2 separate regions of the Homo sapiens genome follow, and region 2 is linked to region 1. Evidence: fine-mapped expression QTL. A gene starts in region 1. The other region holds a variant in brackets. All regions are shown on one strand. Distances are from middle to middle. Region 1 holds the start of PAUPAR (PAX6 upstream antisense RNA). Region 2 has its middle 54 kb from the start of LINC03031.

The links. PIP is the estimated chance that this variant, and not a neighbour inherited with it, causes the effect. A credible set is the group of variants that fine-mapping cannot tell apart.
Region 2: its variant is the best candidate, but not a certain one, in a credible set for the expression of PAUPAR in cerebellar hemisphere (GTEx, PIP 0.75).

The regions. Positions count from the first base shown.
Region 1 is chr11:31,824,263-31,829,640 of GRCh38, forward strand. PAUPAR (PAX6 upstream antisense RNA) reads left to right here and starts at 2,305. Exons shown (of 1, transcript NR_117094.1): 1 at 2,305-5,041. All of the region lies in intron 1 of PAX6-AS1 (PAX6 antisense RNA 1), which reads left to right. RefSeq lists an enhancer at 1,554-2,978.
Region 2 is chr11:31,984,589-31,989,966 of GRCh38, forward strand. No RefSeq gene overlaps it. Among named protein-coding and RNA genes, the nearest start is that of LINC03031, 54 kb to the right of the region's middle. RefSeq lists an enhancer at 2,360-2,860. The variant A/T (reference allele first, on the strand shown) is at 3,151.

The sequences.
Region 1 (5,378 bases):
ATATCAATGCTAATTCCCTCTCTCCCCCCAGCCTGCAGGTGCTAGGCACGGGAAATGGCGTCAGGCCCCAGCAGAACGCTTCACAAAGAGGAGAGGGCTAGCTGTGTACAGGGCCAAAAGAAATGAAGCCCCACATAAAATTACACCTTTTTTTTTTTGCTACAAAACCTGGTTCTTATATAGCAAAGTTAAACAAAGCAGCTATGCTAAATTAGCGTTACATAAAGGCGAGTTTAATGCTCGGTTACAGTCAACTGGTGTATCTCTGATGGCTAATTGTCTATCAAAATTAAAGAGAAAAGAACAAATGATTCGTTATAAGAAGGTGTTAAAAGCCTCAACAAAAGGACATTTCACAAATATAATATCGGCAGCTCCCGGATTGCCTGCGGGGTTGTTCAGGCCCCGGGCCTGCACAGCTATGAGAAGTGGGGTGCAGGGTGCTATTTGCCCAGCAAAAGCTCATTTCCTCCCAAATGAGTATAATGAAAACCCGAGAGGCGATATTAGTGTAAAGATCGGGATTAGTCCAAATAGGAGCCGCGGACTTGGGCTTCAAAGGCGACCCCTACTCTTTTTGCCCAGTCTGGGGGCGGAGGGCGCTCGAAGGGATACTTCAAGGACACCACATCCAACTTGTCGCAGCCCCACGTTCAGGCACAGGAGGGAGCGAACATTGGGCAGAGGGTAATTTCAACAAAGGACGGCAGGCTCCGGGGATCCCGGCTTTTCCCTGAGTTCTCTGGGTTGGAAGGAGAGGGTCCGGGCTCTGTCGGAGGAGTGGGTACAGCCCAGCACATGCTTTTCTGACGCGCAGCGCTGGCCTGGGGAGTGGGTGCAGCTGCTGCAGCCAGCCCCCACCCCGCCCCAGGCTGGGAAGGACGCAGAGTATAATACGACGGCCCCCTTCCCCAAGGGGACACTAGATCCAGAGCTCCAGGCATATTTGTTGTTCAAAGTTAATTATACCTGAAAGCAACCAAAATGCGCACGCCAGGCCCACGGAGGCCGATTGCCGACCAGCGTAGCCGGCCCGCAGCGCCAGAGAAGCCGCTCACTCCGGCGGAGTCTCTGCAAGAGAATCTGAGGCTGGGGAATAAAAGCCGAAACTAAATCAGGCAGCAAGAGTAACAAACCATCTGGAAAATGGACCCACGGAGCCGCAAGAATGTACTTTTTTTTTTTATCCTTGACAACTTGTGTCCTAAAGAAAGTGTATTGAAGATAATTGAAATGATTACAATTCATTGCTGCCTGACTTTGAATATGAACAGTCACATAATGACATCCCCGCCACACAACAACAGTTTAATTTCCATTATCCGACTTCGGGATCCTAGCGCCAGCCGCCGGGGCAACGTGGCGCTAATGCAGAAATCTTGGCTCCTGCCTGCATTATTCATTTCGGGGACGTGGGGATGGGATAGGAGTGGAGAGTGGGTTTCTTCCCCTCCCCCGAACTTATTCTGAAAATCCCGGGGACCAATGGACACCGAGGAACCGAAAGCCGAGAGAATAGCTGTCAAGGGGCCACTTTGACCGACGGGGCTGCGGTCGACGGCGCTCCCCGGCTGTCTTTTTGTCCCAGGGGTTCCCAGGCCCGCAGGGCTAGGATCCCCCAGCTCCCACCCTAGTCAGTCCCAGTCAGGGAGGACCTAGGCCAGGGCCTCCTCCCAAGGCTGTCATCTGGCGGGGCAAACGCTCTTCTCTCATTCCTTCGTCTCCCTTCCAGCCCTCGCATCCTTTCCTTCTTTCTGCTTCAGAGCTCTCAGGCTCGCGTGCAGGGCGGGATGGGCCCGGATCGGGGGCCCCTTCGCAGATTTGAAAGTTGCCTCGGCCTTGATCTTCTCCCAGCCTCCCTGCTGGGGACTCACCCCCACATCCCGCTACCCCCCGGGGAAAAGCGAAGAAAGCCAGAGTCTCTTTGCACGGCGGGGACGCTGGCGCTCACCTCTGGGCGCGGCCTCGGTGGAGCCTCAGGGCCAGGGCGGGGTGTGGCGGGGTGTGGCCCGGTGGGGTGAGGGAGGGACCCGGGGTGCAAGCCAGGCCAAGGCCTCCTCAGTGCGCAGGCGCCGTTCGGGCCCGCCGCCCCCTCCCAAGGCGTGGGGTCCCGGGGACAGACCCCGAGCCCCTCTCTGCGCAACTACCGCCTCTAAAAAAAAGACCATCTGGTAATTGTCTTTCTTTAGATCTTCCCTTAATTATGCTTTTAATTAAAGATGGTTCAAGGCACCGGACCACATGAAGGGCAGTAATTACAAATTACATTACAAACCCGACAGACGTAGCAGGATCTGCTGGGAAAAAGGTACCGGAATAAAAATTTGACTAAAGTTTGGGATAAATTAATCGGTGGCTTGAAGAACAGTAGCACATTTCTGATTATGTAGGCTCCAGCCAGGATTTAAGTTTTGTGTCATGATTGTTTTCATATTTCTTTGACATCTATTGATTTGGAGGCAGCTGCAAGCCTTTGTCACAGGAGAGAAGAGCAGTCACAATATATTAGCTTGATGGCATAACTCGAACCGGAGAAGCGAGGGGAGCCTGAGTGACTGGGGCGCACATGACCCCCCTCCTGGGGCCTTTGGGCTCAACCCTTACTTTTAACTTGTTCTAACAGGAATAATGGAGTAGTACTACTAATGCATGGTCAGAAGGGGCTTTTCTGTCTAGAACGCAGGCGGCGGGAGTTGCACCGCCACAGCCCGGGAGACCAAAGAGTCTCCACTCCCCGCTCCCGGCGCCTCCTCGCCGACCGGAGCCCCGAGCCCAGTGAGCCCAGCCGGTCCCACGTCGAGAGGCGCTGGGTTGGGAGAAGTTCTGCTGGTCGTGGGCTCGGCCCCCAGGCGCCAGGCCGAGTGCCCACCTCGGCTTCTTTAGGGGGCCTACAGCGGGCAGCCGAGCGGCTGGCGGACCCGGAGCTTGGGAGGCGACCGCCAGGCTGGTGCCCGGCCTGACCCGGCGTTCGCGGCCGCCCGCTCGCCCGCCGCGGGCCGGGAGCGTACAGGAGTGTGACGCAGATTGTGAAAACAGAAGGGAGGGAGTTGGGTCATTTCCTTCGCTAATCATCGCCCCCTCCTGCTCCTCCTCCCCACCCCCATCCCATCCTCGCCGCCACCCAGCCTCGAACTCTCTTCCTTGCCAGAGTCTGCCTCACTTTGAGCCAGTGGCTGCACTTTATGGAGAAAATATATGTGCCCATCACTCACCCATCTATTTGCAGCGTCCATGGAGCGCCTCGGGGAACACGCATGGACAATTAAACACACCCACTTACGGCGGGATGATGAGGCTTTCTGTTAACCACATGTGTTCAGAAATGGATACAGCCCTAATTTTGACACGGAATGCAGCTAATGCACCTTGCTATAGATGTACGTCCGTTGGAAAAGTGTGTGATGGGCACCTGATCTACACCAAGAGAACAGGGCTGTCTGCAGAAGACCCAGCGGCCTGACACCTTTTCTTGTTGCCGGGGAAGGAAAGTTTTTCTTTTGATTTGTCCTCTCACGATTTTTCCCTTTTCCTTTGCATTACAGTTTCAGAGAGGAATGTAAATATTTTGACTAGACCTCTGCAGGGGCCTTTTAAACACCAGGCACAATCATCTGTGGAATACTGTAGTTCATACTTTCAAAACTTGGGTGTTAAAGAGTCTGTCTTGCTGAGGAAACCCATAGAACTAGTGGCGACCTTTCAACTCCCTATTTGTGTGATGAAATGAAGTATGCCCTAGTGATTGTCGAATTTTAAGGACTTGTTCTGTCACTGCTACTTTCCGATCGTTTGCAGGGAAGAAAAATCAATCAAACAGACCTTTGATGGGGTTGTGGCAAGGTCACATTTCACTGTGCTCCAGGCTTACCTCTTCTTAACGCCCCTCCCTGCTGTGGAGCGTGTGCAGGTAGTATGCAAAACTCTAGAAATAATATTTGAAAAAATTAACACCTTGTTTATCTCTTCTGTGTATTTGATATAGGGGTTTCTTTCTTTTCCTGTTTTGGTGTTTAATACAAGGCTGATATATTGGAACAGAATGCAGACTTCAAAGAAACTAAAATTAGGAGGCAAATAGCGTCAAGGTTTCCTCGGTTTCTGTATGTAGTACAAATAGTATAGCGTCTTTTCATCCAAAAAGAAGCAAAAATTGCCAGGAGGCATAAAGCATCTCTGAATATCCGTTTTTTTTAAAGAAACAAACATTTCCCAAATATTGATGTACGCATGGTTTTATAGTCTGAAAATATTTCTAGGCACAAATATGGCATACAAACATTCGTTTCAACTCTGTCGTTGTTGTTAAAATGACAGTAAATTATAGTTTATTTTAAGATACCTCCCTGTTAATGTCAGTTGAGGTTATTTTAGGGCCTGGATGCTCTAGGAAGACCACCTAAAATGTGTTTATTTCTCTGCCCAATTCACCTATAGTGTAAGGAGCATTTTATTTTATTTTATTTTATTTTATTTTATTTTATTATACTTTAAGTTTTAGGGTACATGTGCACAATGTGCAGGTTTGTTACATGTGTATACTTGTGCCATGTTGGTGTGATGCACCCATTAACTCGTCATTTAGCATTAGGTATATCTCCTAATGCTATCCCTCCCCTCCCCCCATCCCACAACAGTCCCCAGAGTGTCATGTAAGGAGCATTTTAAATAAAATATTTTGGGCATCCTTAAGTCCTTTTTTAAAAATCCAACATTCTACAATTGTGACAAATAGGCTGAAAAATTTTGTTTTGTTTATACCAAATTCATTTTAATAAAGCATTTGCTGAGATTTTAATACAACAAATGCCAACAAAATGCATCAGAGTAGAAAAAAGAAAATATTTTCAGAATTGCCTATAATATTGCTTGTGATCCTAAATTTTTTGATGCAAGGAACTTGAATTTTTCAGCTAATATTATTCTGTTTTCTTATTCTGTGTTTCTATTAGAACACTCACCTATGCTCTGCTTCCCTTGCTGTCTTCCCATAGCTTATGTGTGCACTATGAATTTCAATAAATATAAATTACTGCTTAAAAGAGTAAAGAATGGCTACTTTATGACTCACTGTTCTCTCCTTACAATCTGCTCAAAAATCTTTTTTACAAATCCCATTGTAGCTACTTCCCCTCAATTCCACGATGAAAGTGAATGGCAAATGCCATTCAATTTAGAGGAACTCAAGCACAGAGAATATAAAGATGTTGTTCAAAGCCTCCCTCAAATCTATCTGTAGGCTTACAAACAAAATGAGACTGGAGGCAACATCAGTACACATCTCCGACTCCATATGAGGTTACTTGAAGCTTTGGGGTTCACTCTGGAAACAGAAGACATGCATCAAGGTATGTGTTCCTTAGAGACTGACAAGCAACAGT
Region 2 (5,378 bases), 160 kb after region 1:
CCTACCCCCCATAACTCCAGAAAATCCCTGGGGACAAATTGAAGCCACAGCATCTAGCTGTTTTCTGTGCTGCCCTCAGGCCACTTCCACTAAATCTCTCCCTCTTTTTTTTTTTTTTTTTTTTTTTTTTGTGAGATGGAGTCTCATTCTATTGCCCAAGCTGGAGTGCAGTGGCATGATCTCTGCTCACTGCAGCCTCTGTCTCCTGGGTTCTAGCGATTCTCCTGCCTCAGTCTCCTGAGTAGCTAGGATTACAGGTACCTGCCACCACACCCAGCTAATTTTTGGAGTTTTAGTAGAGATGGGGTTTCACCATGTTGGCCAGGATGCTCTTGAACTCCTGATGTCAAGTGACCTGCCTGCCTTGGCCTCCCAAAGTGCTGGGATTATGCCTCCCAGGTGTTGAGCCACCAGGCACAGCCCACTAAGTCTCTCTTTTGACCTGCACAGAGTCCTTCCTCTCCATGTCCACCAGCTGGAGGTGGATCCAGGAGGGTCTTCTCTGCATGGCTGCAGGTACCCTTGGAAGTTCCGGAAGATGTGAAGAGTAAAGTACAGTGGAACAGCCACTGCAATACACTCTGATATGTTTCATCCAATGGGGGTGGCATTTACTGAGACACAGGGCTGGGCACTGTGGGGTGATGCATAGAAGAGACAAGGCTCAGCCTCCAGGTGCTACTACCCTGCTAGCAGCACAGCCATGCAACCAACTGTGGGACCAAGAGTGTTGTCTGTTCTCAACTTATAATATGTTTAATGTTTTTTTTTTTAGCACTGGGTACTCTTCGTCCGACAAGATGTAGCAGATTCACTTTAGGAGATAAGAGCAGAGCTGTCCTGGTTGGGTGGACTAGGCTTTCAGGCTTGCCCAGCTAAATGTCTCTGTGCTTCCAGCTCCTCCACTTCTGGGTAAATAGAACCCTGAGGTCCCTCAGAGAACAGCCTGAAAACCATTAATATGGCAATGTATAGCAGTTAACTACCTGGGTTTGAATCCTAGCTTTGTTACTCACTAGCTCTTGATCCTGACAAAGTTACTTAACTTCTTGGACTCTCAGTTTCTTCATCTGCAAAATTGGGACAGAAATTATGCCTGTTTCATTGGGGTTGTGAGGTTTAAATGAGCTCATGCATATAAAGTACTCAACATTAATTTAGTGTTACTACTTAGTCAATAAGTAATGAGGACTCATAAGCTATAGCTATTAGTCTTATTAAGGACTTATTGCTATTAGTCTTGTCACTGAACTGAAAGAGTTACTGGATTCAGTAAATGAGGGAGCTCGAGCTCTGTCAATCTGAGACCTCTCAAAGAGGAGATAATTTTTCCAGTCAGGGAGATGGTGTAAAAGCAGCCACATGATCAAGCTGCAAGTCAAGTATCAACAAATTTAAGATACTTTTTTCTTTAATCACAAAAATATCACATTCGGATTTTTCAAAAAGCAATGAAAACTCTTCCACGATAAAATTTTGGCAGGGTGATCTTCAGCAGGCCATTTGACCCCCTGAGCCAGTTCCCTTTTCTGAAGAACAGAGGCAATGAACCTCTGTTCTCAGAGTTTTGGGGAGGCTCAAATGAGGCTTGAGAGTGCCAAGCATCCTCCGAGCTGTTTGTCATCGAGCCCCAAGGAGCCCTTGGCACCTAGTAGGCGTCAGTAAATATTTGTTGCATCTGAACTCTTTCCATCTGGGAAGCCCTCCAATGGCCTGGAATCTCCAGCTCTCCCGCTAAGCAGGTCAGAAAAGCAACTTAAAGGATCCATTTTAGTGTCCATTTTCTCACTTTTCCCCCTGAAAAACCACTTACAAAGCTGCCAGCTTCCTCATTTGGCTTTTTCTGGCCTGGTTTCATCTTATTAACGGTCACTTCATTCATCAGCATAAGGAAGACTCCACTCTGTCAACAGGAGGGCAGGGCTTGGCCTCCAGTCACAGGGCAATGGCGGGGGTGGAGGAGCCTGGAAACAGCCATAGCGTAGGCTTAATGAATAAAAAGTTGCGGTTGAGAAGGCCCAGGATTCCCAAACAGCCTTCCCTCCACCCCCAAACAGCTGATCATTGGATAGTGAGGAAGCAGGTGCTCCTTCAGAAAACTCTGTTCATTCATTCATTCATTCATTCATTCATTCATTTAACTACTCATTCATTCACAACTATTTCTCGAGTGCTTATTATGCACGGGGAATAGAATGCTGAACAGAAAAGCACACCCACTCCCTGCCCTCATGGAACTTACAGTTTGGGGGGAGGATCACTCACATTAATCAAATGATCCTCGCCATCTTTGGGGCTATGGTGCATTCCAGGGAGGCTTCCTGAGGAGATGACCCTGATCTAAGATCTAAAGGAGACCTTGGAGGAAACGGGCTGTGGGGATTGGGGAGATGGTTCAAAGAACATCATATGCAAAGGCCCTACAGAAGGAAGAACGTTTTTGGGACACAGACAAGCAAGATCGAGAAAGTTCACTTGCTTTTGATGGGACCCTCAGGCTGGAGACACGCTGGTCACCAAGTAGCGCCAGGTGCTCAGGCAGAAGTCAGCCGACTCTGGGTTCGAGTCCCAGCCCCACTGCTGGTCAGCTCCTTCTTATACCTCAGTTTTCCAGCTGTAAAATGGGACTAAGGCCATTCTTGTAGGCCAATGGTGAGGATGGGAAATACGCACGTCATTACCCGATGGGACGGTGCCAGCTCCCCTCGTCCACCGACGTGGGCCCGAGCTAGGGTTCTGAGCCGGATCCGGGGGGAACCGCGCGTCTAGGGCTGGAAACCCGCCGCCACAGCGGGCTAGAGGTCGTCCCCGCCCGCAACATATGCGCGAAGGAAAGTGCTACGAACGTCAAATGGCCGCCCCCCGCCGACGCCATCTGCTCTGCGAAGCAGAAACGGCGGCAGCTGCGCGCCCAGTCCCTCCGCCCGCGCCCCGCGCGCCGAGTCCGGATCCGCCGCCCGGCGGCACCGCGGACAGCGCCAGCCCCGGGGTGGCGGGCGCGGGGCTGGGGGCGCTGGGAAGAGGGGTCCGCTGTAAGGCCCTCCCGCCGCCTCGGGGCCAGTCTGGGTCTAGCCACTTCACCTGTGTGCTTGAAATGTCAGTTCTTTACCAGCCAGGCTGCCGTTTGTTTGGCTCCGCCCTCCGGGGGCA[A/T]ACCAAAGCACGGATAACTGGTCCCTGAGACAGATAAACCTGGGTTCTAATAACAGCTCAAAAACCAACCAGCTGTGTGGTATTAGGGAAGTCGCTTGACTTCTCTGGACCTCTGTTTTGTCTTCTGTAAGATGGGTATAATAAGCGCTGTGCCCTAGGGTTGCTAGGAGGATTAAATAGAAAGTTCTATGTGAAGTGTTTAACACAATGCCTGGCACATAATAAAACATAACTGCTAGCTAATTATTTTATTCAAAGCTTACTTTTCTAGGGCTTTATGGTTACTCGCTGGGTTTCTGTGGCCCCTTAAAATTTCAGCTTGCTCCCCATCCCCACTCTCCTGCATTCTTCTTCAAACGTGGATGAACAGGCCCAAAGATGCTGCAGCTTTTTGGAACATTTCACCACAACATTGGGAAATCCCTGGATTCCCCACACTCTCCTGGTCCTGAAAGAGACTCAGTTTGCAAATGTCTTTTGATGTTGTCCAGAACCATCCGTTATAACAAAGGCCATTTTCAAAATGGTAAAAGTTCACGAAGGGACTGGCTAGAAGAGTGGCTGGTGGGAAGGCAGGGTGGTAACAGAAAGTAGACTGAGAACAGGGAAACAAGAAAATAAAGAGGCCGGAGGTAGGGAGGTGGCTGCATTCATTACATTAAAAGTGGATCATTCCAGGATTTCATCTCAAGCAAAGATAATCAGAAGGCATGGGCTTTCGTTAACATTTTACCACTTAGCATTTTGGCTATGCTACTTTAGGCAGTTGAGTTCACAAATGTTCACTGAGTGGCTGCTATGTGTCAGGCGCTGTGCTAGGCTCTGGGACTAAAAAAGTGACCAAACCTAGACTGTGCCTTCAGGAGTTGATGGCCCAGTGGGAATCAGACAAGCATGGGTGGAATGGTAGGGGGTGCCTCAGGGCCCCAAAGAGAGGCCTATCAACATTCTAGGGGTTTAGTGGGAGTCACCAAGCTTTACCACACCTCATTTTCCCATCTGAGGCTCCGGGCTCACAATCCCCACCTGCAAGGCTTATGATAAGTAGCAGCTGAGCCTTTCTTTACTCCTGGAACCTGACCACCTACCCTGCGCCCCACCCCAAAAGCTCAGCACTCTGCTCTCCTTCAGTAGCCAAGCAGCTGCCACAACCTTGAAGACTAAAAAGAGGAAAACAGGAGAAAACGTTATATACAGGAAATCATTGCACAGCACAAGAGATGTGTATTACAAACCCCGACGTCGAAGGTCACCTGCCATACTCCATGGTGCTTAGGGTGCTAAACAATATGAATGGAAGATGATGATGGGGGTGAAGAGAAAGTGAAGGGGAAGTGGAGGGGCAAGAGTGGAAGAGGAAGATTTGTCTTTTATGGAAGAGCTGCGTCATGTTTATTATTTTAACAAATGTGTGATTCAACAAATATGTACTAAGCATATATTCTTTGCAAGAAAGTGAACAGATCAAAGTCCCTACTCTCAGGAACTTATAGTTTCCTAGTGGGGCTTCAGAGTGCAATCAAGTAACCAAAACATATGAAGTGGTTGGTGATGAGTGCTCTGAAGGTGATAAAATAATAATAAAGGGTTAGGAGCAACAGTGACTGCTGATTTATGTGGCATCTGAGCATGTGAATCCTAATATTCGATAATTTTTTGTCTGAACCTAGCCATCCTTTTGGCAGGGGGGAAGCAAATTATTCATGTCTAACTCTGAGTAAATATGTTCAATTCACCTTAAATTTTCTAAAACAGTCTTCTATTAGAACATATAGGCAAAATGAGCCCTTAAAAAACACCCTTAAACCTGTTCAGATTCAACTAATACAACATGTCAATATAGATGCTTCTAGAGTCTTTTCTATGCATATACTATATATATTTATATATAATTTAAAAGGGATCATTACATACTGTGTTATAATAATATTCCATGATAAACTTTCCTTACTGGCAGACATATTTTGGCAATATTATCTTAAATAACTCTATATTATTCATTGTATCTGTGCATCACAATTTAATTAACTGATCCCCTATGATGGAGCATTATTTTAAATAATGCCACAATGAATCTCTAAATATTTGCCCACATCCCTAGTTAATTTCACACTCACAGAGTCCTAAGTGTCTTCCTGGAGACTTTGGGACACTCTCAGGCAACAGAGGAGCAGAGAAGCATGATGGTGTTTTTGAGGGGAAGAGGTATCACCTTTTGGGGCCATCTC